Linked DNA regions of Homo sapiens: region 1 is linked to region 2. Evidence: fine-mapped QTL for protein levels in blood plasma. A gene starts in region 2. The other region holds a variant in brackets. All regions are shown on one strand. Distances are between the middles of the regions. Region 1 overlaps PTGFRN (prostaglandin F2 receptor inhibitor). Region 2 holds the start of PTGFRN (prostaglandin F2 receptor inhibitor).

The links. PIP is the posterior inclusion probability: the model's chance that the variant is causal. Protein levels are from the aptamer-based SomaScan assay of Sun 2018.
Region 1: its variant is fine-mapped to the plasma level of the PTGFRN protein (Sun 2018, PIP 0.95).

The regions. Positions count from the first base shown.
Region 1 is chr1:116,949,083-116,951,990 of GRCh38, forward strand. PTGFRN (prostaglandin F2 receptor inhibitor) reads left to right here. Exons shown (of 9, transcript NM_020440.4): 4 at 110-490. Among named protein-coding and RNA genes, the nearest start is that of PTGFRN, 41 kb to the left of the region's middle. The variant CT/C (reference allele first, on the strand shown) is at 1,348.
Region 2 is chr1:116,908,443-116,911,350 of GRCh38, forward strand. PTGFRN (prostaglandin F2 receptor inhibitor) reads left to right here and starts at 1,474. Exons shown (of 9, transcript NM_020440.4): 1 at 1,474-1,810. The coding sequence starts at 1,762.

The sequences.
Region 1 (2,908 bases), 41 kb after region 2:
CTTTAATGCTGTAAATAAGAACTTAAAAGGAGATGCTTTAAAGAGGGTGGAGAATAGAAGGGGCAAACATAATCAGATTACCTAGATGTATTTGTTTTTAATTTTCAAGTTCTGCGAGCAGCTGTGCCCAAGAATGTGTCTGTGGCTGAAGGAAAGGAACTGGACCTGACCTGTAACATCACAACAGACCGAGCCGATGACGTCCGGCCCGAGGTGACGTGGTCCTTCAGCAGGATGCCTGACAGCACCCTACCTGGCTCCCGCGTGTTGGCGCGGCTTGACCGTGATTCCCTGGTGCACAGCTCGCCTCATGTTGCTTTGAGTCATGTGGATGCACGCTCCTACCATTTACTGGTTCGGGATGTTAGCAAAGAAAACTCTGGCTACTATTACTGCCACGTGTCCCTGTGGGCACCCGGACACAACAGGAGCTGGCACAAAGTGGCAGAGGCCGTGTCTTCCCCAGCTGGTGTGGGTGTGACCTGGCTAGGTGAGTGGTTTGGAGAATGACTCTTAACCTCTTCAGCTTAACCCCTCCTCGGAGTTATCTGAAGGAGTTATCTCAGGAGGCTCTGCGCTTTGCATGACTTCGACATTATTTCTATTGGTTCATGCATACTTTGGCCCAGATAGATCCCAAGCTGGGGATGAAATAGAATCTGGCAGACAAGGGAAATGTTTAGATAATGTGGCCTCAGTTGTCTCAATACCCTCATTTGAGAGTATATAGTTTCCTTTTGTTGTCGACATTTGCAGGGTCAGGGCACTGCTGAATGGCTCTTTGAAATGAATCTTTGTTGGAGGGAGAACACTGCCATTCTTCCTTTGTTTCTCTTAGACTCCTAGGTGCTCCCTGGCAGGAGCTGGTGCTTTTCCAAAGCCCAATGCAGAAAGATAATTCCTTCAGTTATTAGAAAGCATTTTTTTTTTCACGTCACGCCCTGGAATCCCACAATATATCTGTATATACCACTTACAACTAAAGGGCCCGCCTGCTTCTATAGGCTTGTTTTGTGGACGCTCTCACCCCAGGTGTAATTTCCCCAGTGGAGGAGCAGAGTAGCTCTCAAGTGTTGAGCACCTTGCCACCCATTTTATAACAACCTGCCGTATATGTGGAGATCTTTGGCATGTCCTCTTACTTTATACTAAGCTCCTTTTCCCCTACCTCTTTTTTCCCTAAATGTTTGCCCTCTGGGCAAAATGTACACTAACTTTTCCTAATTTTTGTTATGTCTTGTAATTGCAAGTAATCAAAGGAGGGATGGGGTCAAGCTGGGTGTGGAAAGCTTCGCTCCCCACCTCCATTATTACAGAGATGGGACAGGCCTTTCATCACATTCCCCC[CT/C]GTTTTGATCTCTCTACTGTCCGTGAGTGCCTGAGCCCTGATAAAGGCATTTGGCATTGCTCTGATTATTAGCAGGCAAAACAGATCTTTAAAGGCCAGGAAACCATTTCCTCCTTTGTCTGATTCTTCTGCTATGACCTCCAACTCATACTTATCTATTCCTTATCTCTGCATGGAAATCTTCTCTTGGGTTAGTGGCATATTCGCTCTCCTTTTTTTTTTCCTCCCCAGTAAGCCTTTATTTGGCAAAGATGGGGAGTTGGCCAGTGGAGACAGAGGGGGCAGGGAGAAGAAGAGCAATGAGAGTAAGCGGAAGGGACAATCCGATTCCGATGGAGACGAGGCAGGGTGTTCATCAGCCCTGTTAGCAAAGTAATCCTTTGATATCTGAAAAGTAAAAGAAGCGGGGTTTATCTGGCAAGCTTTTTATTCCTGCCGTCTGAACCCCATGCAAGAGAGTCACTATGAAGTACTGAACTGGAACAATGTTGGCCCAGCTAGAACTCTCCTTAGCAACCTTCAAAATAAAACAGATGTTGTCAGCACCAAAAGAAGATTTTTCATCTCTGGAGCTGAATTTGTCTCACAGCTCTGATCCTTAGTGTATTGTATGGTGCTGTCAAATCCCAGCACTGGCTCTCCGTACCCGCTCCCCCTTCAGCTTCTGAATCCCAACTCGAGGACTTTTTTTTTTTTAATTGAAAGTGCTGCTTGCACTCCAATTTGAGGCTTCTTTGAAGTACGTGTGCATTGATCCCGGCATACCCGGGGGGAGATGCAGGGACTGTCAGACAACAGGAGCGGAGCTCTAGGAGGAATGGGCTCCTTTAACTGGAAGGGATTTGTTGGTAGCTGTGTTCTCCAGAGAGTGAAAAGAAATAAAGAGACTAAATTGTGGAAAAGGCTCAGTTACTATCCAAAGGATCCCGTCATTTGTTTTCCTTTGGAGTGCTACTACCATTGTGAAAGTCATCAGTGTGCTTTTCCTGACTGATGCTAACAGATACAGAACCTGCACCTTCCCTGCTGCTTTGCATGTAATAAGCACTCAATAAATATTAGCTGAACGGGTAAATAAACCAGTACCCACACATGGATTTTGTTAAAATATGTGCATAGGAAAGCTAGAATTGCTAAGAAAGCAGTAATGTTCAACTCCTAGGATATTCAGAGATATTTGCCCCTGAGTAAACCTAACGAAAGAGCGAGTAGTATGAAAAACAATTGCATTCTTTTTTTTTTCTTCCTCTTAAGACTTCTCCTCCTTCCCTGTGCCTATGACTCAGACCATTACAGCTGCTTGGACACTTGTCAGGAGCGGGTAGGGCATGAGCATAGCAGCAGACCCTTCTCAAAGACTTCCCCGCTGGACTCTGTCCAGAAGCCAGTGAGCCTGGCCTGACACTCCATGGTTGTCTCTAGATATGTAATGTGCATGTATATGCGTACGGATACCATACCACATACAACTTGGGACCAATATAAGGTAACCGAGAAGTGACCAAAAAAGATAGACAGACAACCTGACAAGCACTCTGTTGATATAGGTGGTCTTAGGTC
Region 2 (2,908 bases):
CCAGTGTCTACAAAAAATAAAAACAATTAGCGAGAGTGTGGTGGCACACATCTGTGGTTCCAGCTACTTGAGAGGTGGAGGTGGGAGGATTGCTTGAGCCTGGGAGGTCAAGGCAGCAGTGATCCCTGATCGCACCACTGCACTCCGGCCTGGGTGACAGATCCTCATTTTGAGACCCTGTCTCAAAAATGAAAGAAAGAAAGAAGACAAAACAAATAAAAACTCCTGGCCTCAAGCAACACCATCCCTGCCCCCCGCCTCCCCCTGCCCCCCCAACCTCAGCCTTCTGAGTAGCTAGCATTACAAGTACCAGTTACCAGGCCTGGCAATTTTAAACATTTCTAAGTGTACCATTCAGTGGCATTAAGTACAATAACGTTGCACCACCAGGAATGAATTTTTAAGTCTCTTTCCAAAGATACCTGGCTAATCACACATTTGATAGTGGGGAAATAAGAAACATTTGTTGGTTGAAAGACGGATGCATGAGAGTAAAAGCAGTGTTCTTCCCCAGTGTGGGCAGTTTCCGCATAAGCATCTGCGATCCGTTTTGCATGTGAATGAAAGCCCAGTGACGGGCAGTGGGCACCAGTGCTGCTCCTTGCGTGTTTGAATCATGCTTGCTAAGTTTCAAGCAAGGAATGCTCCATTTCTCCCAACCAAGTCGGGCCTTTTGTATTCAAATCAAAAGCACAAAACTCTATTGTAGGGGGAAAAATGAGTCTTTATTGGCAATCAGTGGTGTCCACTTAGAGCAATAAATATTAAGTCTTAAGAGTACATTCTATATGAAGTACTATAGCTATTAATACACTTGGGTTTTGTTTGTTTTTTAAATGGGTGTCTTTGTGGGGTGCTGTTCTAATCAGTGCCACAGGCGCCGAGGAGAGGGAGGGAGCTGGGTAAGGAAGGAGACAGGCCCACCCTAGCCACCGGGGAGTGGGCAGAGTCAGGAGAGCGGGGTTCTGATTTTGCCCCTTCCCTGTGAATCCTTGGGCACCTCACCGAAACACTTAAGGCCTCTGTATGGTAGAGGTTGGAATCCGTGGCCTTTAAAAGTCCTTTCAGCTCCTTCGCTCCTATCTGCATAATTTTTGGCATAGGCCAAGCGGCTGGTTGGTGGGGTGTTTAGCTCAGGACGAGAGGCCGAACGAGCGGGGAGTTGGCTGAGGATAGACTAGACACGCGTGGGTGACTCCAGCGTGATGGAACGCGGGGTGTCCCGGGATAGGGCTAAAGCGATGGGATTTCCAGACGAGTCTTTCCCAGGCCAACTTTTAAAGGTCGGAGGAAAGTTTCTCGTGGGGTGGGGGCCCAGAGGGGATGGCAGGGTGGGCTCCGACGCCTCCTCGCCTTTAAGCGGGTGGCCCCGGCTCTTCCTCCGTTACCTGGAGCGGGGAGGGGCTTGGGAAAGTTTGTGTTTGTTGCTGGCAAAGCGCCGGATGGGAGGCGCGGGCGGGCGCTGCGGTTCTTCCCTTCTGCTTTCGGGAAGCGGTCGGGGCTGCACACTCGGATCGGCGGGGCCGGCTCCCGGGCCCGGCCGGCTGGAGGAGGGAGGGAAGGAGGCGGGAGGGAGCGAGCGGAGCCAGGGGCGCACGTACGCCCCAGCGCTGGGATTTATCGGCTCGCGAGGAGAGCGGAGCAGGCGCGCGGCCCAGGCGGAGGAGCGCCGACTCTGGAGCAGCCGGAGCTGGAAGAGGAGGAGGAGGAGAGGCGGCGGGGAAGGAGGAGGAGGGGGAGAGTCGCTCCCGCCGGGCGAGCATGGGGCGCCTGGCCTCGAGGCCGCTGCTGCTGGCGCTCCTGTCGTTGGGTGAGTGTGCGCGGGGCTCAGCGGGGCACACGGGGACTGGCGAGGCCCTGGAGGGCTCGGCGGGGCGCGGCTGCAGCGCGCGGCCTGGGGCGCCGAGGGTGCCCGGGCTGCTCCCGGGAAACCCGGCCGGGGTGCGCGGGTTGTTCGGCCCGGCGGGGAGCGGCCGCGGGGCCGCCCGGAGCCTGGCGCGAATCCGCTCGGGCCCCGCGCGCGGGGTGCAAGTGGCCGCTCCGCCAGGCCGAGCCTCGCCCCCAACATGTGCCGGGGGGAGTGGCCCGGGGCCGTCTTTCCCCCAGGTCTCCCTACCTGTTGGCCGCCGGGAGCCCGGCTCACCTTGAACTCCCGGCCCGGAAGGTGCTGCGGTCCCGGCCCGGGTCCTCGGCTCGAGAGCGGAAATGTGAGCCTTTGATATGCCCCGCCATAGCCGCCGCCGGCCGGGTCGCTCTTCACCCAACCCGCGCGGAGTTGCCTTTCCAGGGAAGCGAGAGAATCCTCCAACTTCCTTCCACGAAGGTCACAGGGTGGCCCGGAGCGTTACAATGGAAATCGGCGGGCGAGTCCTGCCGTCATTTTCGTCGTGGCTAGATCTTCTGCCTCAGTCTTTTCTTTTAGCTTTTCTTGAAGCTGCCTAGCTGCGTATTTATACACAAAGACCTAAAAGCCTGGCTTCTCCAACTTTTTCTACCTGTTACTTTCCCTCCCTTACTATCCCCTCGTCTTCCACCCTCCGGAAACCCTGGGTGCCCCGTGAGGTTTTGGCCCAGCGCCCTCCCCCCACCCAAGGAATCTTTTGTGGGTTTTTTCCCTCTCCATTTTCCATTCACTCCATACACAGACACCATCTTCACGTAGATCCACATGGTGATCCTAGCCAGCCACGGAAATATGTTTATTAAGTGCCCACCATGGTACCCCAGGGCCGACTCTTAAATGTTTTGATATTCTTGGATCCTTGTTGTCAGTGTCAACCAGGACAAGATGATTCCTGTGACCTGGCCTGGGGTTCTCTTCCAAGCCCCTAGAGAAGGCGGCTCTGAGTCTTTCACAGAGCGCATGATGTGCGGTGTCCGTGCCATTCAGGTCCCAGCTGCACACAGG